Regions from separate parts of the Homo sapiens genome. Here regions 2 and 3 are each linked to region 1. Evidence: fine-mapped expression QTL. A gene starts in region 1. Each other region holds a variant in brackets. All regions are shown on one strand. Distances are between the middles of the regions.

Region 1 (7,847 bases):
AACTTGGCGACAAGAACCCCTGAAGGAAAGGCGGGGCTCCTTCCTCAAACATCGGACGGCGGAATGTGGCAGATGAAATGTGCTGGAGGAAAAAAATGACATTTCTGACCTTCCCGGGACACATTCTTCTGGAGGCTTTACATCTACTGGAGTTGAATGATTGCTGTTTTCCTCTCACTCTCCTGTTTATTCACCAGACTGGGGATGCCTATAGGTTGTCTGTGAAATCGCAGTCCTGCCTGGGGAGGGAGCTGTTGGCCATTTCTGTGTTTCCCTTTAAACCAGATCCTGGAGACAGTGAGATACTCAGGGCGTTGTTAACAGGGAGTGGTATTTGAAGTGTCCAGCAGTTGCTTGAAATGCTTTGCCGAATCTGACTCCAGTAAGAATGTGGGAAAACCCCCTGTGTGTTCTGCAAGCAGGGCTCTTGCACCAGCGGTCTCCTCAGGGTGGACCTGCTTACAGAGCAAGCCACGCCTCTTTCCGAGGTGAAGGTGGGACCATTCCTTGGGAAAGGATTCACAGTAAGGTTTTTTGGTTTTTGTTTTTTGTTTTCTTGTTTTTAAAAAAAGGATTTCACAGTGAGAAAGTTTTGGTTAGTGCATACCGTGGAAGGGCGCCAGGGTCTTTGTGGATTGCATGTTGACATTGACCGTGAGATTCGGCTTCAAACCAATACTGCCTTTGGAATATGACAGAATCAATAGCCCAGAGAGCTTAGTCAAAGACGATATCACGGTCTACCTTAACCAAGGCACTTTCTTAAGCAGAAAATATTGTTGAGGTTACCTTTGCTGCTAAAGATCCAATCTTCTAACGCCACAACAGCATAGCAAATCCTAGGATAATTCACCTCCTCATTTGACAAATCAGAGCTGTAATTCGCTTTAACAAATTACGCATTTCTATCACGTTCACTAACAGCTTATGATAAGTCTGTGTAGTCTTCCTTTTCTCCAGTTCTGTTACCCAATTTAGATTAGTAAAGCGTACACAACTGGAAAGACTGCTGTAATAACACAGCCTTGTTATTTTTAAGTCCTATTTTGATATTAATTTCTGATTAGTTAGTAAATAACACCTGGATTCTATGGAGGACCTCGGTCTTCATCCAAGTGGCCTGAGTATTTCACTGGCAGGTTGTGAATTTTTCTTTTCCTCTTTGGGGATCCAAATGATGATGTGCAATTTCATGTTTTAACTTGGGAAACTGAAAGTGTTCCCATATAGCTTCAAAAACAAAAACAAATGTGTTATCCGACGGATACTTTTATGGTTACTAACTAGTACTTTCCTAATTGGGAAAGTAGTGCTTAAGTTTGCAAATTAAGTTGGGGAGGGCAATAATAAAATGAGGGCCCGTAACAGAACCAGTGTGTGTATAACGAAAACCATGTATAAAATGGGCCTATCACCCTTGTCAGAGATATAAATTACCACATTTGCCTTCCCTTCATCAGCTAACACTTATCACTTATACTACCAATAACTTGTTAAATCAGGATTTGGCTTCATACACTGAATTTTCAGTATTTTATCTCAAGTAGATATAGACACTAACCTTGATAGTGATACGTTAGAGGGTTCCTATTCTTCCATTGTACGATAATGTCTTTAATATGAAATGCTACATTATTTATAATTGGTAGAGTTATTGTATCTTTTTATAGTTGTAAGTACACAGAGGTGGTATATTTAAACTTCTGTAATATACTGTATTTAGAAATGGAAATATATATAGTGTTAGGTTTCACTTCTTTTAAGGTTTACCCCTGTGGTGTGGTTTAAAAATCTATAGGCCTGGGAATTCCGATCCTAGCTGCAGATCGCATCCCACAATGCGAGAATGATAAAATAAAATTGGATATTTGAGAAACATTGTGCTTTTTCATTTAAAGACCAAAGTCATTTGAATTCGATGGCAGGCCTTTCTCTTTCTGAGACCTGTACGAAATGGCTGATATTAAAGCAGGATCAATAATGTAAGCATAAAATTACATTTGCTCAGTCAGTCGGGCCCAGTGCTTTGCCTGAGTGTGAAACCCATTTCTGTGGGCTTGGGGGTTGACCAGGCAAGGAGCTGGGCCTCAGAGGTTCCATGTCATAGCTGGCTGAGTTTCAGCTGTTATCTAAGCTGCCTGAGTCTCCTTTTATCATAAAGTAGTGATGGTGTCAGTGTGCGAAATGGTGGGGAGGACTGCATGAGGATTGACGGACAGCATTGTGCCCCTGACGGTGAGCACAAGTGTCTGTTTTTGTCACCTTTTCCTCTAGAGAAATCTAGAGGATCTAGAGAAAGGATCAATTTGGGTTTTACTGACCTCAAGTTTCTAAAGCTTCTAACCAAGAAGCCTCAATCACCCCGTTGTGAGCTGACGCTGCCATTGGCTCAAGATCATTGCTGGTACTGGGGTATGTCCTCCAAGCTCATCCCTTGCATTTGATGTGGAAAGCCCAGATCATTTTGACATGGGTGGCAAAGCACCACCACTTTAACAAAAAAGGGAGGCTGGGATCAGATCTCTCGTAACATATGCACTTATGTTAAGAGAATTTAGACACATTATTTAGAGACATCCCATTTCTCAATCCAAATGTGAGCAGGAAACTGTAGGAGAAGGATATTTTCCCTCATTTGGTGTCCCGGAACATGACTCCCTGAAGGGAGCCATTCTGGGGACAATTGGAGGGTGTGGTATGCGTGTGCACACATGCATTTGTGTGCCTGGTGTGCGTGTGGGGGTTGGCACCTCTCTAGAAGTGGACCCTTTGGGATGTCCTAGCTTCTCCTGCTGGTGGATGAAGCCTTTCTAATGGCTTTGCTCCTTGCTCCTAGGCATGAGCTTGAAGGGGGATAATGAAGGGCGTTTAGGAAGTTGCTCAAGGAAGACTGTCTGAGGAAACTGCGTACTGGGCTGAAGAAAGACAACCGGAAAACACTGAAGGAGCGCTCAGCCACTGCACCTTCAAAAAGGCAGAAAAGTCAGTTCAGGGAGGTGCCTCCCAGCTACCCCACCCACCTCAGGAGGGGTCATTCCAACCTAGGGTGCTGAGAATCTGGGTGGGATTACCAGCAAAAGCTAGAGAACCATGGGTCAGCGACCCTTAGGAAGAAGTGGAAAGGAGTCTTAACTTACCTGCAATAACCTTCCTATGCGAAGTTGTGGCTAACGCATGCCTAATGGCTAGAATTAAATGCTGGGAATATAACGAGCTCAGCACAGGTTATCCGCGTGTCAGATGTTCCTGCTGTCTTCTACAGTGGGGACATTTCCTAGCCTATTCCCAGGCTCCTTTAGAAGGGAAGTGGAGGTGCCCCATCTTCACCTGCCGCGTCCCCTCCAGCGTCTGCCCGGGCCCTGGGCCTGCGCTCCCTCGCGGTGGCGCCAGGTGGCGGGGCTGCGCGCCCTGGAGGAGCTGCACCGCCGTCGCGGGGCTCTCTCAGCACTGAGGACACCACGCCCTGCAAATTGTTGGGAACTTGTCGGTGGCAATCACACTGCTGGCTCCTGCAAACTGGTGTGAGGCCCTCAGGGGTGAGAACAGGATTGCAGAACTGCGCTCACCCTTTTGGAAAGTCGTCCAGTGGCAGAAGTAGCCTCCCAGGAGCAGAGCGAAGCTGCTCGGTGGTCCCCTCTCCAACCAGGGACCCAAGAAGCCGCTCAAGGGAACACGGCCCCGCGGCGTCCGGGAGGTCCTGCAGGAGCCCTGCGGCTGCCCCGGTTCTGTGAAATGGCAGTGAGGGTGGGGGAGATGTGCGCTAAATCCTGGGAACGTGCGAGTCATAACTTTCCAGGAGAGGGGCCCAGGGCGCTGGTCCTGCAGGGCGTGGAACCCTCTGCTCTTCCTGAGCAGGCTTTGTCCCCGGGTCGACACGGGGAGCTCAGCGTGAGGCCCGCCTGCAGCGTGGACGCAGATCTTTTTTATGGTCTGCGTTTCTGTATTAGCCTCAGCAGCCTGGTGACGCCTTTATAAAAGGTCGAAACACGATAAATTGCCAATATTCCACGTTTTATGTATTCCCCCCAAAGCCGACAATTAACAATGACTCACCGAGCAGCAGATTCTTTGCACACATCCATAATTGAATCAGTAAAATCCATGTGTTGGAGGATATGCAAATTGCAGGTCGTTAACGCTTTAGAACGACACATTTCTGTATCGCCCCGTGAAGAGCTCTACGCACATGAATGTTCCCCGTCTGTTTAACTGTTACGGCCGCAGTGTGTGGGCCGCAGGCGCGCTGGGGGCTCATCTGCTGATTTTGCTGCCCCTGGAGCAGAGGGATAGCGAAAGCGGGGCTGAGCGCAGCACGGACCGATCCCATCGCCGCGCTCGCCCCGCGTGGAGGCAGCCGGGTGCCCGAACCTGAAGGAGGACCCGGTGCCGGAAGGGCCCGCGGACCCCGGCGTCTCCCGGGGCATCGAGCGCCATCGCCCGCGTTTTACGGCCAGGGAAACTGAGGCGGCCGCCGAGGGGACGCCTCGCGACGGTTCCTGGGAGAGCTGGCGGCGGCCTTGCTCTGCGCGCTCTTCGCGCCGCCCTCCCCGCCCGCCCGCCTCAGGATTGAGGAAGTGCGTCTGGGCCCGGCCCCGGCGCGGGGGGCAGACGGCGGTGGGACGGCCAGGCCCCGGCCCCGCCAGTGTGTCCGCCCGGCCCCGCGTCCCGGAGCGCCCGCACCCGGCCCCGCCGCCGCCTCAGGTAAGCGCCGCTCCTGCCGGCGCCCCCCGGCGGCCTGGCTGCCTCCCGGCCCCGCCCGGGGAACCCAGAGCCCGCGCCCGGCGCCCGCGGGGAGCCTCGGCCTCTGCCTGCCCGCGGGCCCCTGCGCTCCGGGCGGCCGCGTGGTCGGGCACGGGGGGCCGTTGCGCAGGGGCCGCGGCCCGAGGGGCGCGGAGGGCGTGTGGGGCGACCCCGGTCTCACGTCCCCGCTGCCTCCCGCCGCGCCCGGAGCCCAGCCAGCCTGTGGGAGGGGAGCGCGCGGGGCCCGAGCAGGGAACCCCGAAACCCCGTCCGGGCAGGGTCGGGAAAGCTGGGAAGCGGAGGCAAGAGACACGAGTCGGGAGACACGAGCCGGGGAGCCCATAGGTTTCCTCTGCCTTTGGAGCGAACCCAGTCCCTTAGCGGGGAGCGGGCGGAGTGTGAGCGCGCGGGTGAGCCCGTGCCGGGGTGTCGGCAAGAGACCGCCCGGGAGCCTCTCGCTGGTCCGGGGCTTCCTGGGGTTGCGGGGCGGCCCAGCGAGGCTTCACCCTCCTCGATGTCTGGGTCACGCTTCTTGCCCAGGTGGTCTCTGGCTGGCGCAGATACAACTGCTCTGTCTACCATGGTCTCTGCAAGCTACAGGGGACCTTCCTGGCAGGCAGGGACGCGGGAAGGAAGCCTAGGAAGGCCGGGGTCAGCGAGGAGACGCTGGTGGAGAATCTGAGAACCCCCGTGGCCATCTCAACCTACCCCTTCACAGTATGAGGCCGCGAAGTTTTTCTCCCACGAACACTTCCCCTGCAACAGGTAGAGAAACGGGGGCATATAGCTTTCAGCAAACCTCTCACCGTGTACACTAATGATAGAGTTTGCCAGCCACTCACAGGGTATCAAAATGCCCAGACATTAAAGGGATAGCTAGAACATGCACAATTTTGGAAAATGTTAACATTAAACGCCTTTTATGATTTGATTCTCTTCATCTTTGCCTATGTCCTGAAAGAGAAAATAATATAACAAACTAACCTCACACCTAATTTGTTCCTAAAGGAGGTTTTGCGGTCAGCCAAACCTTTCCCTCTCCCAAAAGTCGATGTCTCTGGCAGTGACCTCGCAGTCAACTCGGATCCTCAGATAAAAAACATTCAGTCTGTTGAATCTATGTCTAAAATGTGTCCTGATCTGTCCCCTTTTTCTTATGCCCCCACCCCCCACCCTGCCCCTTGTCCAGGGTACCAGCATCTCTTTACTGTAGGATTTCAGTTCCCCCTTCCTCCATTCTCTATATAGCAGCGTGCGTCTGTGTGTGTCTGTGTGTTTAAATGGGTAAATCAGACCATATCAGTCCTCTTTATGGAGTCCTTCAGTAGCTTCTCCTTGCAACTGGCACGCAATCCAGGAGACCTCCTTCTCCTCACACCCCCAGCTGATCCAGCCTCTGCTGTCTCGGACCACCAGGCCATTGCCCCAGGCCACACTGGCTGAGCTTGCTGTCCAGCACTGGTCCCCTGCACTGCTGCCTCCTGACTCTTCACACAGCCTCAGAAAGTCTTCCCTGGTCACCCTCTGAAAACCCACGCTCCCTCTCACATCCCTCACTCTGCAGCCTCCCTGCAGTCCCCATTCTGTACTCCTTCTTTATCTGTTTAATTTCTCCTTAATTATCTTGTGGTCTCCACTGGAGCTCTTGGGGTCAGAGACTGATCTGTCTTGCTTATTGCTGTGCCCTCATTCCCATAACTGTACAGGGAGATACCCCGTGCATGGTGGTAGAGTGACTGGATGGGGAATGGACAACCCTAACTTACCTGTGGTTTCAGACTCATGGAGCATTTCTCTCCTCCACCCTTTTTGGGCTCATCTGGGATTGAGAACAACATATTTCTCTGGCCTGCAGCTCCAAGATATTTGGATGCCCCCAAACCCATTAAACACATTTTATAGGCAAAAGCCAATGCTAGTAAGGGATGCAAATAGCACTCAAGAGATTTCTAGAATCATGGGCTAACCATTTTGACCAGGATTTTGTTTCAAAAAGGAACTAGGTGATATGAATGAGCATGTCTAGCATGCTTTGCTTGCAAGGGACTTCTAACTTCTAACTGATATCGACAGTCCTTCCCAAGCCTCCTAAAATATCTGGGCTTCTCTGCTGTCAGAAGCTTTATAGCAATTACTTAGCTGTCTGCTCCCCCACCAGCTTCACAAACTCATGAAGTTCCCTCTTCATAGAAAGAACTCAATAAGACATTTGTAGAATGAATGACAGGTTCTTCTCTTTTCTTTTCTCTAGAGTCTTGCTCTGTCACCCAGGTTGGAGTGCAGTGGTGCAATCTTGGCTCACTGCAACCTCCACCTCCCCCAGTTTAAGTGATTCTCATGCCTCGGCCTCCCAAGTAGCTGGGATTACAGGCGCCCACCAGCATGCCCAGCTAATTTTTGTAATTTTAGTAGAGATGGGTTTTTACCATATTGGCCAGGGTGATCTCGAACTCCTGACCTCAAGTGATCCACTCTCCTCGGCCTCCCAAAGAGCTGGGATTACAAGCGTGAACCACCGCACCCATCTATTTTCTTTTCCATTAAATGTTTAGGTTTATTCATTAATGCAGGTATAAATAGTTGGCAAAAGGAAATTGATGAGGTTTTGAAAAATCATTTAAACCATCATTACTGCTGAAAACCTCTTGATGCCCTCTTTAGGGTGTATAATGAAGACATGTAACTTGTAATCATCACTTGTTGGCACCTCTCTGGACCCAAAAGAAGCAGGAGGAAGCAAAGATCCGTTTGAGGGCAAAGATTGAGCAAAATTTGAATTACCTCATCTTAAAACTTCTACCTTAGAATATAAGCCAAAATAGTAACTAGAATTTTAAAACTGCTCCAGGGGCAGAGTCTTCCACTGGTAAAGTGATTTTCAAAAGGAAACTGAAAATGAAAAGGGGAACAAAATGTGCTGGGTGAGGGTTAGCCTGAAATAATTTTAAGATTTTTTTTTTTTTAGAACTTAAAAACATTGTATGGTAAGACACTTCTGTTTTCAGGAAGAATGTCTAGCGTTTGGATTTTTGAAATGCTGTTGGTTATGTGCGGTAGCTGTTTTGGAGAGGTGTCTGAAAGCAGATGGCAACTGTGCTTCTCAGTTT
Region 2 (7,847 bases), 69 kb after region 1:
GCCGTGGTGGCAGCGTATTTTGGACACACGGCAGTTGTGCAGGAATTGCTTGAGTCCTTACCAGGTAAATCACAGGGCATGAGCTCTTAACCGTGTCTCAGGGCACCCTCTTCTTAGGCTTCACCCCAAAATGTTTACTTCTTCATGCTTTCACCAATAATGAGATCAAGAAATACAGGGTAGGCCATTGACACCCAAACAAAGTGAAGCTTGCCTGCCAGCCACATTCCACCTCTCACTCCCATGAACTCATAAGGGAAATTCTCAAACACCATATTTCATAAAGAATGTAATTAACATTGCTTTTTAAAAAAATAATTAATAGACCTTGGTCTTTTTAGAGAAGTTTTAGATTTATGGAAAAAATCAATTGGAATGTACGGAGTTCCAGAATTAATGATTTGGAGGTATGTTAACAGAAAACAGGTGATCGCTAAATCACTTACACAAGAATATCTAGGTAAGAGAGACAGTAATCATGCTAGTAACTTCTATTGAGATGGGGACGCATCAGTCTCAGGAGGCAGGTGCTATATTTCAGAACCATGGTTTTAAGATGACGAAAACAAAGCTCAGAGAGGTGACCCTCCACTGTGCGCCCTCCACATGGTTTTCCCTATAACTCTGTTTTGTGTTAGTGTGGGACATTTGTGACAACTGATCAACTAATATTGATACCTTCTTACTAACTAAAGTCCATCGCTTACGTTGCAATTCATTCTTGCTGTTGTATATCCCATCGGTTTTGACAAATGGATAATGACACGTGTCCATCATGACAGTATTACATAGAGCAGTTTCACTGCCCTAAAAATCCTCTGTGCTCCACCCCTCCCCTGGCCCCATCCCTCCCTCCCTCCCTCCCTCCCCTGGCCCCTGGCAACTACTGATCTTTTTTACTATCTTTGCCTTTTCCAGAACATCGCTCTAGTTGGAATCCCACAGTCTGTAGCCGTTTCAAACTCACTTCTTTCCCATAGCGATATGCATTTAAGGTTTCTCCATGCCTTTTTGTGACTTGATAGCTCATTTCTTTTAATGGCTGAATAATATTCCATTGTATTGGTGTACCACACTATGTTGCTTTTGTAGGAACTATTTTTTTCTCTGGTGAACTCAAGATGTCCTGGTCTCCTGTAATTTCCCGTGGTGGTCTTGGCTCAGAAACACTGCACCAGTCTAGGCAGGCATCGCTACAGCTATAGGGTGAGGCACACCCTAGCCATGGTCTTTGGGATTTGAGATTTTGCTTGGGAGCCAGGGCCCACCTCTTGGGTGGGAGAACATGCAGTCACCCAGGGCCCTGCACCTAGAAGGGCCCACGTTACGTTTAATACTCTGTACTCACTATCTTAAAATGTTTCATGATTTTTAAACAAGAAGCCCCATTCTTTTCATTTTGCATTGGGCCTCACCCCTTATATAGTGGTCTTGTTTGAGGGTTTCCAGCTGTGGGCTTTGATAGATCTGTGCTCAGCGTTGGTTCCAAGCTAGTGTTCCCCTCATGTGTCTGAACAGAATGAGGTTATGGGCAGAAATCAGGGCAATTTTAGGGCCCATGAGAAGCATACTAAGACAAGACATAGGAGGGCAGAGAGGAGCTTGGGTGCTCCTGAGGAGCCAAAGGCTGACCTGCCTCTTCTCGGGGAGCCCCAAGATTAGCTCTGTTCTAGCCCTGAAGAGTCTGCACCAGCTGACTCCGTCACCTAATGTTAGCTAATATTTATTGAATACTGTCAAGTGCTGAAAACTGTGTAGAACGTGAGAGACAGATAATTTTTTTAAAGATTTTCCCAGCCATTTAGTACCTCCTGGCCAAGCAGGGGAAATTGAGGCAGAAAGGAGTAACACTGTGCAATGTAACTACACTGAGGTTGAAGTATTTTTACGCAGAGGTCTGGGAGCACACATCAGGGGGCAGGGTAGGGTCTCCGAAGGGAGGCTGACATCTGACCTGGGCTTTGCAGAGTGAATAGGAGTTTACTTGGCAGACAAGTGAAGGAAGGACTTGGGTTGCCTGCTTTTGCAGAGCAGGAAGTGTGGCTGAACCTCGTCATGGTTTTCAACTGCTCCCAGGAGCATCGTATCTTCAGCTCAACTCTGAGCAAAGCTGCTGAGGACTGAAGGATTTCAGACCATTGTGGTGGGCTTTGCAGAAAGTGCAGAGATGGGCAAAACAGTGTGTACCCATCCCTGCACTTCCTGCAAAGGAGTTCCCAAGCTGGAAGGGAAGTCAGCCATGGTCAGGAGTAAGTCAAGACAAGAAGACAAACAAGAGTCAGGCTGGACATGCTGGCTCATGCCTGTAATCCCAACAATTTGGGAGGCCAAGGCAAGAGGATCACTTGAGCCCAGGATTTCATGACCAGCCTGGGTAACATAGTGAGACCCTGTATCTACAAAAAAAAAAAAAAATTTAAATTAACCAGGCATGGTGGCACATGCCTATATTCCCAGGTACTTGGGAGGGTGAAGTGGGAGAATGGCTTAAGCCCAGGAGTCCAAGGCTGCAGTCAGCTATGATCACATTACTGCACTCCAGGCTGAGATAGAAGGAGACCCTGTCTCAAACAAAAAACAAAAACAAGAAGCAGCTAGAGAACAAAGGAGGGTTTGAGAAGAAGAGGGATGAGAGGTTGATGGGATGCATTCTTTGAAGCACGTTGTTATGTGATTCCTGGTCTCTGAAGCTGAGCAGGGAGGAAGAGGGGCTCCTCTGAGTGTCGTTGGCCTTAGGCTGTAGAGAGTACCTGTAGGGGTTTTGTGTGGTTAAGAGAGCACCCTTTGATTTTAGACAAAGCAAGGTTTAAGTCTTGACCTTGCTATTTACTAACTGTGGGACCTTCAAGAAGTTTCCCTGCCAGGTGTGTCCCACAGACCCTGGCTGATGGATGAAATGAGTACTCAGACACAGGTGTACGGTGTAAGAGCAGCTGAGTCACTGCCTGGCTCTGTTGGCCAGAGAGCAGCCCGAAGAAGCTAGAGCTGCTTGCTTTCATTCAGTGCAGGCACAATGCCGAAAACCTGGAGCCAACACAACCTGTAGGTAATTAACATTTATTGTTCCCCTTTCAGGGAACATCAAGCCAGCAGATGATCAAAGGTCAGTTCCTGGTCAACATAAGTAAACAAGCCTGTTTAAGATACATTCCCCTACACTCCTTGCCCTCTGCCTTCAGCTGTTCTCCCCCAGGGCTCTGCAGAAGCTTCCAAACTTTCAGAAGGTTTGTGTCCTTTCCCTGTAGTTTTTCCTACGACTCTGACCAATCTCCTACATTTCCAAACCTCTCTGAGCTTTGGTTTCCTCATCTTAAAATCATGGTCCTGAAATATAATGCCTGCCTCCAAAGACTGACACATCCCCATCTCAACAGAAGTTACTAGCATGGTTACTGTGTTTCTCTTACCCAGATATTCTTGTGTAAGTGGATTAGGGGTCACTTATTTTCTGTTAACATACCTACAAATCATTAATTCTGGTTAACAGTAGAGGGAGAAGAAGGGATATTTACTTGGCACTGGCTCCAGCCTCAGCCCTATGCTACATGCTTTATTTGGTGAATACAGGGCCATCCTGACCCCGGTTTCCTGATCAATGTCCTGTCGCGAAGGAGAGAGTCACTCTCTCCTCACTTGGGAGCACTTTGATCCCTAGGACTATGTGCCTCTGGAAATGAGGCAGTGTTATGATGCATTTGGGAAGTGTCCCTGCAGAAGATGAGGTCATTTTTCCATGGCAACTAGACCCAAAAGATATTGCACTATTTTGAACTTGAAGATATTGTAACATTTCAGCCCACACTGCCCCCGTCAATTCAATGTGCTAAGTGTTATTTCATCCTGGAATTAAGTAGGTGGTTCTACTGGGGAGAAATTGTCACTTTTAGGCCTGACAGATCTTTCACCAAAGCTTTTATTATTATTATTCATGAAAGTAATATATGTATATTATAGATAATTTTAAAATGTGGGAAAGTGTCAGTACTTTAATAATACAATGACACAACATCATGAGTTAGGGTTTATTGATCCAGGCACTTGACATGCATTTTGTGATGTAGTCCTCACATTAAACTTGGAAGAATGAGTATTATTATTCCGATTTTACCAACAGGCAAACTGAAACAGAGAGAGATTAAGAAATGTGTCCAAAATTACATACTAAATTATTTTATTTCTAAAATGCCTGTCTCCAAAGTTCATACTCCTGCATGTAATGTTACCCTAGGGGAGGGGTGAGGGCAGGGGAGAGCCCAGAGAAAATACCACAATGCTGGGGTAGTTGTTTCTAGTCTTATTTCCACACACCCATTTTTTATTTGGCTAAGATCATGCTGGATACGCCATTTTTAATCCTCCATTTCATCACTCGGCATTATCTGACAAGCAGGTGGGTGACTGATGTGGGGAAATGTCATATGCAATTCAGAGAGACTATTCCAGAAAACACTATCAACTCAACAGAAGCAACTTTCAGCTGGAAACAGGACAGCTGGGTTTTGTTTTGTTTTGTTTAACTTTTACTTTAGGTTCAGGGGTACATATGCAGGTTTGTTACGTGGGTAAACTGCATGTTGCCGGGGTTCGG[T/C]ATGCAGATTATTTCGTCACCTGGGTAATAAGCATGGGACTCAATAGGTAATTTTTTAACCTTCCCCCTTTTCCCTCCCTCCACCATCAAGTAGTCCCCAGTGTCTATTGTTCCCTTCTTTGTGTCCACGTGCATTCAATGTTTAGCTCCCCCTTATAAGTGATAACATGCAGTATTTGGTTTTCTGTTGTTGCGTTAGTTCACTTAGGATAATGACCTCCAGCTCCATCCATGATGCTGCAAAGTACATGATCTCATTCTTTTTTATGGCTGTATAGTATTCCATGGTGCAAATGTACCACATTTTATTTAACCAGTCCATTGCTACTAGCGGTCTAAGGGAAGAGCAGAGTGGGAACAAACAGCACCCTTCAGTGGCACTTTCCCTTTGTCCTGCCATCTCCTGCCAGGTCCCTGCAGTCCCCAGCGGCTTCTGAACTGGATGCTGGCCTTGGCTTGCCAGCGAGGGCACCTGGGGGTTGTGAAGCTCCTGGTCCTGACGCACGGGGCTGACCCGGAGAGCTACGCTGTCAGGAAGAATGAGTTCCCTGTCATCGTGCGCTTGCCCCTGTATGCGGCCATCAAGTCAGGTGGGTTTCCCCACTACCCTGAGTCAACCCTGACCGTGCAAACCATCTCAGCCTCCAGATGTGGGACTGTGTCTTTATTCTCACTCTTGGCTCTCAAATCACCTCTGTGAGGAGACTTTTGCAACTCCTGTTCTATGTTTCTTTTTCAAAATATCTGCACCCTTCCTCATTTCCTCCTTACTTGCCCCCGCAAGGGGATTTCAGTGACAGAGACTGACTGTGGCTAATGGGACTGTTGTACGAGGCACTCCAAAGGGCAAAGCCCCACAGAAATTCTCCCACTAACAGAAACTTGATGCACCAAGGGAAGTAAATAGAGAAGTCCAACATGCACAAGTACCTTTTCAGTTTCCATTCCACATATCAGAGTCTGCCCTTCCAACGACTGTGACACTAGCATCTGCATGCCCTTAGCTTTTTGGTTTTGTTCCTTTAGGGAATGAAGACATTGCAATATTCCTGCTTCGGCATGGGGCCTATTTCTGTTCCTACATCTTGCTGGATAGTCCTGACCCCAGCAAACATCTGCTGAGAAAGTACTTCATTGAAGCCAGTCCCTTGCCCAGCAGTTATCCGGGAAAAACAGTGAGTAGTCACTGCCTGTGGAGTGTGTTTTAGTTCCTTTTGTGCTGCTGTAACAGAATCCTGCAGACTGGGTAATTTATAATAAACAGAAATATATTTGGCTTACAGGTCTGGAGATTGAGAAGTCCAAGAGCATAGTGCTGGTATCTGGTGAGGGCCTTCATGCAGTGATATGAAGGTGGAGGGCAAGAGACCAACAGACTGAGAGAGGGAAGAACTCACTTTTATAACAACCCACCCTCAAAATAACAAACCCACTTCCACAATAACAACATCAATCCATTTATGAGGGTGGGGCCTTCTTGGCCTAATCACCTCTTAATGGTCCCATCCTTATCACAACAGCAATTACATTTCATCATGAGTTTTGAAGGGGACATTCAAGCTATAGCAGGGTGGGAGCTGAAATCTGGGCTTCATCCCCCTCCCAGAGTTTTTGTTTTTGTTTCTGGTTTTTTTTGGTTGTTTTTTTTCTCTTTTCCTTTTTTCAAAAATTGGTTAAATATATCATATTTAACATATTTCTTTTTTAAATTTTTATGTGTTAAATTTTAAAATTACTAAAGTTATGAATGATTGTTATAACAAGTGATCACAATTGAGAGTGGTAATCAAAATTATGAATCTTCTGCCCTTGAAGTAAATAGTTTAACAACCTGGTAGGGATCTTTTCACATCCTTCCACATGCAATGCTATAAAAACATTTACAAAACTATACAGGGTTTAGTTTTAATTTCCCATTTTAATAACAAAAATATTATTGCGTTATTTACATTGTCTTCAACTTGGCTTTTTAAATTTAGTATTCTATCATGGACTTCCTCTAGATCAGTTATTGTGGCTTCAACTCATTCTTTTAGGGACGTTCTTTAAATACATAGAGCCAGTGTCACTTAGTTGACATAGCTCTCCTGCTATTGGTGGACATTTGAAATAGTTCTTTTTTTTTTCCTGTTGCAATATAGCCTGATTTGCTATGGTATGTTTGCTTATGTAGAGCACAGTCCTAAAAGTGGGCTGCTTTGGAAACACTGCCCCCCAACACTCTGGTGATTCACATTTTCACCAGCAATAGGTGGGATTCTCTGTCTCCACCCCTCAGCCAGCAAGCAGTAGGCATCCTGGAGCCTATTAATTTTCATCAGTGTGAGGCAAAAATAATTTCTGCTTATTTTAATTTCCATGTTATATTAGTAATAATACTGGATATCTTTTCATATGTTCATGAACTATTTGCATTCCCTTTATGTGAACTGCCTGTTAATGTTTGTTGATTATTTTTTCTAAAGGATTGTTTGTCTTTTTTTCTCACTTTGGAGGGTTTTTTTTTTTTTGAACATTAGAGATTTTTAAGACTTTATCATAAATGTTGCCAATATTTTTCCCAATCCATTATTTTTCTTTTTTTGTTATCTTTTGTGATAGCAAAGGTAAAATAATACATAATTCAATATGTTCATCTTCTCCTTTCTGGTATGTGGTTATACAAGAAGGCCACTTTCCCTCTAATTTTATTTCAGTATTCTCCTGGAGTTCCTTGTAATGTTTTCATTCATTTAGTTTTTACATTTTAAGCTTTAACCTTTCTGGTATTTATTTGTGTGTATTGTATGAGGGAAGTGGCAGAGGGTGGAGGTGGCTAGCTTTTATCTCTTCCAGATAGCCAGCTACTCTAGCACAGTTTTTAAAATGAAGTTTTCTTTCTCATCTGAATTGAGATGTCACCATTGGCATTTTCCCCAGTACCTATATCTGTATACATTTTGGGATTCTCAGTACTGGTTCACTGGCCTATTAATCTGTTTCTGGCAAATGTCATATTGTTTCGATTATAGGCACTGCATTTAAGTTTTACAATCTGTTAATGCAAGTTTTCTGTTCATTAGTTTTTTTCAAAGATATCTTGACTGGACTATTATCGGACATTTGTTCTTCTATTTTGCTCATTTCCCACAGTGACTCTATTTGTGTAGCTTTTATGTTCTTTAATGAGATTTTTTTCTTTTCTTCCTAAAACTCCTGGACCTGTCTTGTCTGTTAGTGACTTTTATATTGTTTTTGCTACCATTTTAATGAACTATCT
Region 3 (7,847 bases), 21 kb before region 1:
CCTTAAAGATAAGAAAGACTTGTTCAACAAGGAAAAGGATTTTCCAAGGAGTGGGAATGGCCTAGGCAAAAGTGCAGAGGTGGCTGGGCTACTTGGAAGGGAACAGCAGGAAAGCTGGTGGGGCTAGAGCTCAGGCAGGAGCAAAAGTGAGGAAAAGGGTGAGCACACGTGGCAGGTGGTGTGGGCCAGCTTCCAGCAGCTTTGGCTGCTAAGGGGCCGGGACTTTATTCATTGGGCGGTGGGGATGCTTATAGGTGCCCAAGAAGTGCAACAATGCTGCCTGTCTGTTTGGGAAGCCTCTGGCCATTGCAACAACAGCCAGGCAGGAAGCTGAAGAGCCAGGTGGCAACATGAAGTGAGGGTTCAAAAAGTGCCCATGGAGGCAGGGAGGAGGACACGTCTTCAGCAGATGTTTTAGAGGGAGAGGTAGAACACATGCAACAGCATCCTCTTTGCAAAGGCTGCCTATTAGTACCACCCAGAATGCAGTTTAGGAAGTGCTGTGCAGGATTGCAGTTCTGATCATTGCACACTCCTATGTTACCCCACATACCCCAAATCCAGACCATGAAAAGCAAGTGTCCTCCACAAAGGCATCGTTGAGCACATGGGACAGGGTAAGAGGGTGGATCTGGGCCTCCAAAGCCCCTGTGCTCTGTCGCAGTGGAACTTCCCCCTGCTGATGCTGGTGTGGAAGCTGGCACCCGCCCTCTGCTGTGGGAACACCATGGTCCTGAAGCCTGCGGAGCAGACACCTCTCACCGCCCTTTATCTCGGCTCTCTGATCAAAGAGGTGAGACATCCAAAAAGAAAATATCACATGTTCTTGGTAACATTCCCACTCCTAGGAACCAGGCCACCGTCACGAGATGGGACAGTGGCAGACTGCTGGCAATCGAGTGGGAAGGGAATGACTTCCAGTGTTTTGTTTGGCGACTGCACGTTCTTTCTCCTGCTTGTGGCCACTGAGCTGGAGAAACTCCATTCCTCCCAGTGGTCCTAATGAGAATGCTTAACTCTTATTATGGGCTCAAACCTATGGTTGAGGACCCAGTGGTTTGTCTAGAGAATTTTCAGGGGGGGTCAACCAAGAGGGAGCCAAATATTTGGGAGGTTCTCTGGGATTTGCATTCTCAGTTTATGAAATGGTCCATTTTTCTCTGGAGAGGTGGCCTCGTCAGCTCTAGCTGGGCGGCTGCAGCAGTCCGTGTGCCGGGTCCCTGCTAATCAGTGCCCTCTGCTCTGAATGCAATCTCTTCTCCCTCAGGCAGCCAGAACTTAGGGAAACAGAGGCTCAATGGGACACCTCCTTCCAGACATACCTTTAGTCATTCCATCCCCAGGTTGTATGGAGCAAAGATTTAGAGAAAGCAACAGGAAGCAAAGAGGGACAGAAGAAAAGATCCATTCCTTTCTCTTCTTAGTCGGGCTGATATGACCGGCAGGCAGGTCCACAGTTGCTTAGAAGCAAGGTGGGAACAGCTGGTGATGAGCCAATTTTCCACTTTCCTTTGGTGATGTGGGGCATAATTAAGTCACACTGGTGAGACTTAGGAATGTGAAAATCCCAACTGTTAAGAAACAGTGCCTAAAAATCTAAAGACTCAAGCAGCGTGCCTAAAATCTTGATTTTCTGAAATAATGTGTTCTAAGTAAGACTCAGCACAGGTGGGGAAGAGCATCCTCCACCTCGTTTGTTTTGTGTTCTCGCCTGATAAAGAGGCTTAGTATATGAAAAACACGAGGCATGAACGTGAACGAGGTGGCAGTCCCTGCCTTCCAGAAGGGCTTGCTCCAGGTGAGACCCAGGTTGAACAAGCAAAGAACTTTAAGGGAGTGATACCCTGTCACCATTTGGAATAATAACGGGTCTGATTAAAAAATGAAAACTGGGCTCACGCCTGTAATCCCAGGACTTTGGGAAGCCGAGGTGGGTGGATCACGAGGTCAGGAGATCGAGACCATCCTGGCTAACACAGTGAAACCCCATCTCTACTTAAAAAAAAAAAAATTAGCCAGGCGTGGTGGCGGGCACCTGTAGTCCCAGCTACTCAGGAGGCTGAGACAGGAGAATGGCGTGAACCTGGGAGGCGGAGCTTACAGTGAGCCAAGATCGCGCCACTACACT[C/T]TAGCCAGGGCGACAGAGCAAGACTCCATCTCAAAAAAAAAAAAAAGAAGAAAAAACAAAACTGAAGCTCTTGGCAGATATTTTGCAGGTGCCTCTGATCCTGGGCAGGGCATTCTGATCAAGGTACCCCTCTCCCCTTAACGCATACACACACTCTCCCTCACACACACACACACCCCACATGGAAAGGTGCTGTGCTACAGGCGGGCCATGGCCACCTTGAAGCATAACCACACATTTGCACTGCATATCACTTTGGGATGGGGTCCCCCCCCAGAAGGAGAAGTGGGCATCTCCCCTTGCCCAGCCTGCACACTGGGCTGGCAGCAGGGGATGAGAAGCCCAGGTCAGCTCCCAGGGTGCCCACGGTCAACTGCTTCTGGGTCCTGGGTAAATCCAGCCCGGCCCGGGTTCCCTGTGGGGATGTGAGGCAGCCACGGCTCTCTCGGCCCAAATGTGGATCCGTGGTGGATGAAGTCCGTTCTTCTTCAAGTGCTATCTTGATTTCTTCCCAGGCCGGGTTCCCTCCAGGAGTGGTGAACATTGTGCCAGGATTCGGGCCCACAGTGGGAGCAGCAATTTCTTCTCACCCTCAGATCAACAAGATCGCCTTCACCGGCTCCACAGAGGTAACCCTCCTCACAGGGTGCTGGGGAAAGTGAAAGGGGCGTGTTATTTGACACCCGTGAGCTTTTCCTTTGACAGGCTTTAATATGATTTGTTTTTCTTCTAAATTTGACCATGTTTTAGTACATAACAACCAGTTAAAAAAAGTCACTGGTCTAGTTTCCAAACTAAATAAATATCTAATAGAACTCAGAAGCCTTAGAAGAAAAGATTGAGAGATAAGATAAAGTAGAAATGTAAAATATTCATCTGTCAAACACCATAATTAAGATTAAGAGATAAATAACAAGCTCAGAGAAAAATAGTCGTGATGCATGCAGTGCTCCAAGAATTTATATCCGTCATATGCAAAGTGCTCCTACAAGTCAATGAAAAAAAAAAACCAAACTGAATGGTAGAAAAATGGGCAGTTCAGAGAATAGAAATACGACGTGCCCATTAAGCTTAAACTAGTTTGCTGGTAATCAGGAAAATGCAAATTCAAACAAAATCAGACTTTCCTTTTGCCTGCCAGATTGCTAAGAACTGAAATGATACTGCTGAGAATATGGGGAAGCAGGTGCTCAGCGACACTTGCCCTAAGATGCACAGTGTTTTGGTAGCACTCATCCAACATTTAAAGTGAAAAACTTTTCGATTCAGAAGCTCCATTTCAAAAAAAGAAAAAACTACTTAGAGAAATTTTCTCATGAGGCTTCAGGGACATATTTTCAAGGATATTATATTCATTCTCTGGAATGTTTTACAGCCGTTACAACAAGGAAAGCTGTCCATGATCTATTGTTGAAGCACAAAACAGCAAACGGTAGAAAATTACCCACAATATTTTCCCATTCGTAGAGGTGTGTGCTTGTAGAAGTAGAAATTATCTGGAAGGATTCCCAAGAAATCCTTACTGATGGCCACCTATGGGGTGGGCTCGGGGCAGAGCCGGAGGGAAGCTGAAGGCTTTCTCCCTGTAATTCACATACATCTCTATGTGGAATTACTTTTAATGAGAAAGTATTTCTTCTGTACTTAAAAAAGAAAAAAACACCCGCTGCAATCAGTGTCCCCATCCCCCTCCTTAGTTAGTCCAAGCCCTGGTGGATGCTGTTACTCTCCTTGGAGACAGACACTGCCCTGTGGATGGATTCCAGACCTCATTCAGCCATCACCCATGAGCTTGCTGATGTTTAAAATGCGCTCACACCTTAGCATTGGAGAAAACAGTCTCAGACCCGGAAGAGCCTGGGCCGCGCCTTGCTAGCTTCTGGCTCTAGGCCTCCGTGTCTGCACTGGTCTCTGAGGATCTTCCCAGCTCTGAAGTTCGTGGTGCTGGGCTTTACTTGTTGCCCTAGATAAGTCACCGAGTCATGCTGGGCCAGCCCTCCCCTCCAGGGGTACAGTGGGCAATGGGAGAGACCCCGTGGGGGCCTTGAGCATGACTGGTGAGTGGCTTTTCTGCTCATAGCGCACCCCTTCACTCCCTGCCTGTCTGCGGCAGCCTCAGTCTTAGAGTGTGTTTCCAGAGAATCGGCTCCTTCTCATCCGGAAGGCTGGCTGCCCTCGCTACTTCTCTAACACTTGGAGGTTCCCTCAGATCACACCAAAGAGCCACACAGAACCACCCCCCTACTGGGCTGTTGGAATTTCAGCTGTTTCTAGTGAGAGGTAGAAGAGTCACCCTGCGGTCCCTGAAGCCCTTTACCAGACTGGCTGGACCAGCCTGCTGGGCTCAGAAGGACAGGCACCAGGACAGGTTAGCGGGTGGCAGCCCTGTTCCCAGCCAGCTGTGTGGGCTTCCAGAGGCTCTAACTCACACCTGTAAGTGGAGCGGCTTAGACCAAGGATCCCAGGATGTCATGGTCTGGCATGGGAGGAGATGCTGGCAGAGGCCAGGACAGTGAAGGGACGGCATCGGGGCCTGGAGCGCCTGGGCCGAGAGCCAGGTGGTGGCACTGCCACCCGGGCTTGATCAGAATGTTCACTGATGTTTACGCCTGGGCCAAGTTCAGCAACATCCAAGGTAAATTGTGATCTGTGTTCTGTCCTGGAGGTTGGAAAACTGGTTAAAGAAGCTGCGTCCCGGAGCAATCTGAAGCGGGTGACGCTGGAGCTGGGGGGGAAGAACCCCTGCATCGTGTGTGCGGACGCTGACTGTGAGTCTCTGCCCTCCTGGGCTTTGCTGGGGCTTCAGGGCATCCATCTGTCTCCCCCTACTTCCTGGCCTGAATTCAAAACCAACTGAGAGTAAGATGTGTGCACACACAGTGGGGACGCTTCCACCGTGGGCATCCTGCCCACAGTCAGCCAGCCGCAGACAGGCAGGTGGACATCAAAATGCCAGCTTTACTTCTAGCAGAAAGCTGCCTTCTACTGCCAAAACGATATGGCTTGAGTGGCACCTGAGAGGCTGCCTGTTTCTGCGCCTTAGCGTTAAGTTTACCTGCCTGTTCCTGCAGAGCTGGGGTCACGAGGAGCAGGTCTGGCTTCTCCTCCAGAGCCCCCTGGGAGGAGTGGGGAGGGCAGGTGCTGCCCACTCCCAGTCATTCATTCTCCCCTCCAAGTCACATTTCCTATCATATGTTTTAAGATCCCTGAAGAGTGGAGGTGCTCTTTCCTTGTGTCTCAGACCTGATAAATCAGAGGAGGGCAGTAGCAACTGATCCTTCAAATTACCCGCTTTGCCTGGTTCTAGGCCTGCACCCCTGCCCTGGGAAAGCAACCTGCCCAGCAGTTTGGGGATAGCTTGCGTCTTGACAGCCAAACGACACAGCGTTAAAATATATGCTATTGTTGGCTGCCATGTCCACAAGAGGGAAGGAAGGGCTGGCCGGGCATTCATTCACCTGCTGACAGGGTCAGCTATCAAAAGGTGTGACTTCCCAAGTGCCTTGAAACACCTTTGCCTTAAAGAATAGCCTCCCAGACCTGTCCACGGGTGCCAGAAATTCCTGTCGTGGAGAACAAAGCCTTTCACTTCACACTCAGATAAGGTTGGAATTGCAAATATCCCCAAGAAAAATGACCCTGGCACAATTTCTTACTAAGGTGTAAATGACTGATATCAGTTCCTTTCTGGCAGCTGGCTTTCACAATGGGAGAAAGGACAGGAGGAGGATACAGGCTCTCAGGAAGGAAAGGGGAGCTGGGTGTGAAGATGGACTTTCCATTTCTTGCCTGGGTCAGTGTTCCCTTGTGGAAGCACCATTAGTGCTATGAATAGCAAGTGGTTTTTGGAGCCACACGGAGCATTTCTGGCACTGTGACTCACATTTGGAGTCCCAAACAGCCAGGACTCCTGTTTTGCTTTCCTGTGCCACCGTATCTGGATACGCCACCTGCACTGAAGTTCATCTTCCTCCTCTTGGGGAGGAAAACTGCAGCTAAAGCACAGGACTAATTGTGTTTGGGGCTTGGTTTTACTTACGAGGGTCATAAAAACATGCTGTGTAGCCACCTCCTTCTCCTCATCAGGGCGGTGCCAGTCCACAAATTACATCCTGACATAACCAGCATCCCAGGCAAGACATCAAGGGTAACAAGCCACCATTCCCCTGCCCCTTCGCCTCACCCCTAGCTCCGTCAGGAGCAGGAAATGAGTCTGTTATCTCGGAGGAGGGGCAGTTCCAAGTTGGGACCTGGCCCAGCCAGCTGCAGGGGTCAAGGGTGCAGAGAGGTACCCCCAAACCTTATGGTGCTGTCCTGCTGCCACTGAAACTTCCACAAATGACTCAGCTAGATAGGAGCAGCCTCCTTCTCAAAGCCAAGGGCACAGTCCCTTGGAGCAGCCCCTGTGGAATTGGAACGGATCACCTTCCAATGCCCAGAGCCACTGCCAGCCTCTATGCAAAGGAAAGCTGCATTTCTTAAGAAAGCAATAGTGCGGGGGTTGGTGGTGATGAAACCAGCCAACGGTTGAACACTAGAAACCCCTCTGTAGATGTAAATGACATCCCAATACCATTCTTATCCACTAAGCGTGTCCCCCAAGATCTTATTCTCTAAATACCCTCTGGCTTGGTTTGAATAACTGGTTTTAGTTCAATGTCAGCTCTGCAACTTAGTCAGCCCTTCTAAGTCACACACATGATATTATCTTACTTAATAAGACCCTTCTTTTACTCAAGGTGGAACATTTTGGCTTCTTTAGAAGTTCTCGCCAGGGGGCCTACATCAATAATTACCGAAGTTTATTCTATAAAACATTAGTCCTCTAGAAAAAGGGGAGGGGAGGGGAGTCCTCTAGAAAAAGGCAAGTGAAATGGAGGGTGCTATGACTCTCTGGACTTATTAGCATATTAAAGGTACTGAGAAGTCCTGCAGTCAGGGAATTGATTTAACCCCAAACTTGGTGGACCCCAAAATCCTTTCTCCCTTCCTCTCTATTTGGGAAAGTCTGCAAACAAAATTAATTTCTGAAATGCAGCCATCCTGGGGCCTGTTTTCTTGTGTGGGCAATTAGAATTGCAGCTGTCACCAGTCCTGCTTTAACAACTTAATCGCTTCCTCTCGCTCTGCCCGCCTCCCTCGCCCCTCCCCCTCCAGTGGACTTGGCAGTGGAGTGTGCCCATCAGGGAGTGTTCTTCAACCAAGGCCAGTGTTGCACGGCAGCCTCCAGGGTGTTCGTGGAGGAGCAGGTCTACTCTGAGTTTGTCAGGCGGAGCGTGGAGTATGCCAAGAAACGGCCCGTGGGAGACCCCTTCGATGTCAAAACAGAACAGGGGCCTCAGGTAATCCCCCTGGTGTGTGTGAAACCATGGTGCTTGTCTAGGGGCTGAAGCAGGCAGTCCCATGGCAACCGCCTACAGGGTCCCTCTCCGTGAAAGGAATGCTGACCTGTCCTGCCCAGGAGGCTTTCTTTTCTTTAGAAACTGATCAGAAACACAATCCTGTCAGGTCCCGGGGGCTCACGAAAGGGGGCAGGACACACTGAGGCATGGGAGGAGGGCGCTATTCCCAGGGCAGAAGGCCATCTGCCTGAACCCTCCACTCTCCAGGATGACCTCCCTACAGAAAAGGGGCTGTAGGCTGGCTGAAGGCAGCAGAGTGCAGGCAGCGTGTGGCCTGGAGTCTCAGTCGCAGCCCGAGGCCCTCAAGCCCACGTGGG

Alleles and levels. Positions count from the first base shown, and alleles are read on the strand shown. Sizes are in standard deviations (SD) of each study's normalised expression.
With allele T in place of C in region 2, the expression in caudate of the gene that starts at base 4,533 in region 1 is higher (moderate effect, 0.45 SD a copy in GTEx).
With allele C in place of T in region 3, the expression in prefrontal cortex of the gene that starts at base 4,533 in region 1 is lower (large effect, 1.2 SD a copy in GTEx).

What was found.
Region 2: its variant is fine-mapped to the expression of ALDH1A3-AS1 in caudate (GTEx, PIP above 0.99).
Region 3: its variant is fine-mapped to the expression of ALDH1A3-AS1 in prefrontal cortex (GTEx, PIP above 0.99). The same link has a PIP of 0.9 or more in anterior cingulate cortex.

The regions. Positions count from the first base shown.
Region 1 is chr15:100,914,751-100,922,597 of GRCh38, forward strand. It overlaps ALDH1A3-AS1 (ALDH1A3 antisense RNA 1), which reads right to left and starts at 4,533. Exons shown (of 2, transcript NR_135827.1): 1 at 4,054-4,533. ALDH1A3 (aldehyde dehydrogenase 1 family member A3) reads left to right here. Exons shown (of 13, transcript NM_000693.4): 13 at 1-1,876. The coding sequence ends at 23. It overlaps LRRK1 (leucine rich repeat kinase 1), which reads left to right and starts at 4,607. Exons shown (of 34, transcript NM_024652.6): 1 at 4,607-4,701. RefSeq lists silencers at 3,274-3,493, 4,254-4,843 and enhancers at 3,279-3,871, 3,624-3,713, 3,764-3,883, 5,058-5,649, 6,176-6,235.
Region 2 is chr15:100,983,636-100,991,482 of GRCh38, forward strand. It overlaps LRRK1 (leucine rich repeat kinase 1), which reads left to right. Exons shown (of 34, transcript NM_024652.6): 4 at 1-64; 5 at 4,999-5,178; 6 at 5,615-5,763. Among named protein-coding and RNA genes, the nearest start is that of LRRK1, 68 kb to the left of the region's middle. The variant T/C (reference allele first, on the strand shown) is at 4,589.
Region 3 is chr15:100,893,290-100,901,136 of GRCh38, forward strand. ALDH1A3 (aldehyde dehydrogenase 1 family member A3) reads left to right here. Exons shown (of 13, transcript NM_000693.4): 6 at 665-793; 7 at 2,644-2,757; 8 at 4,794-4,896; 9 at 7,286-7,470. ALDH1A3-AS1 (ALDH1A3 antisense RNA 1) reads right to left here. Exons shown (of 2, transcript NR_135827.1): 2 at 1-2,777. Among named protein-coding and RNA genes, the nearest start is that of ALDH1A3, 17 kb to the left of the region's middle. The variant C/T (reference allele first, on the strand shown) is at 2,129.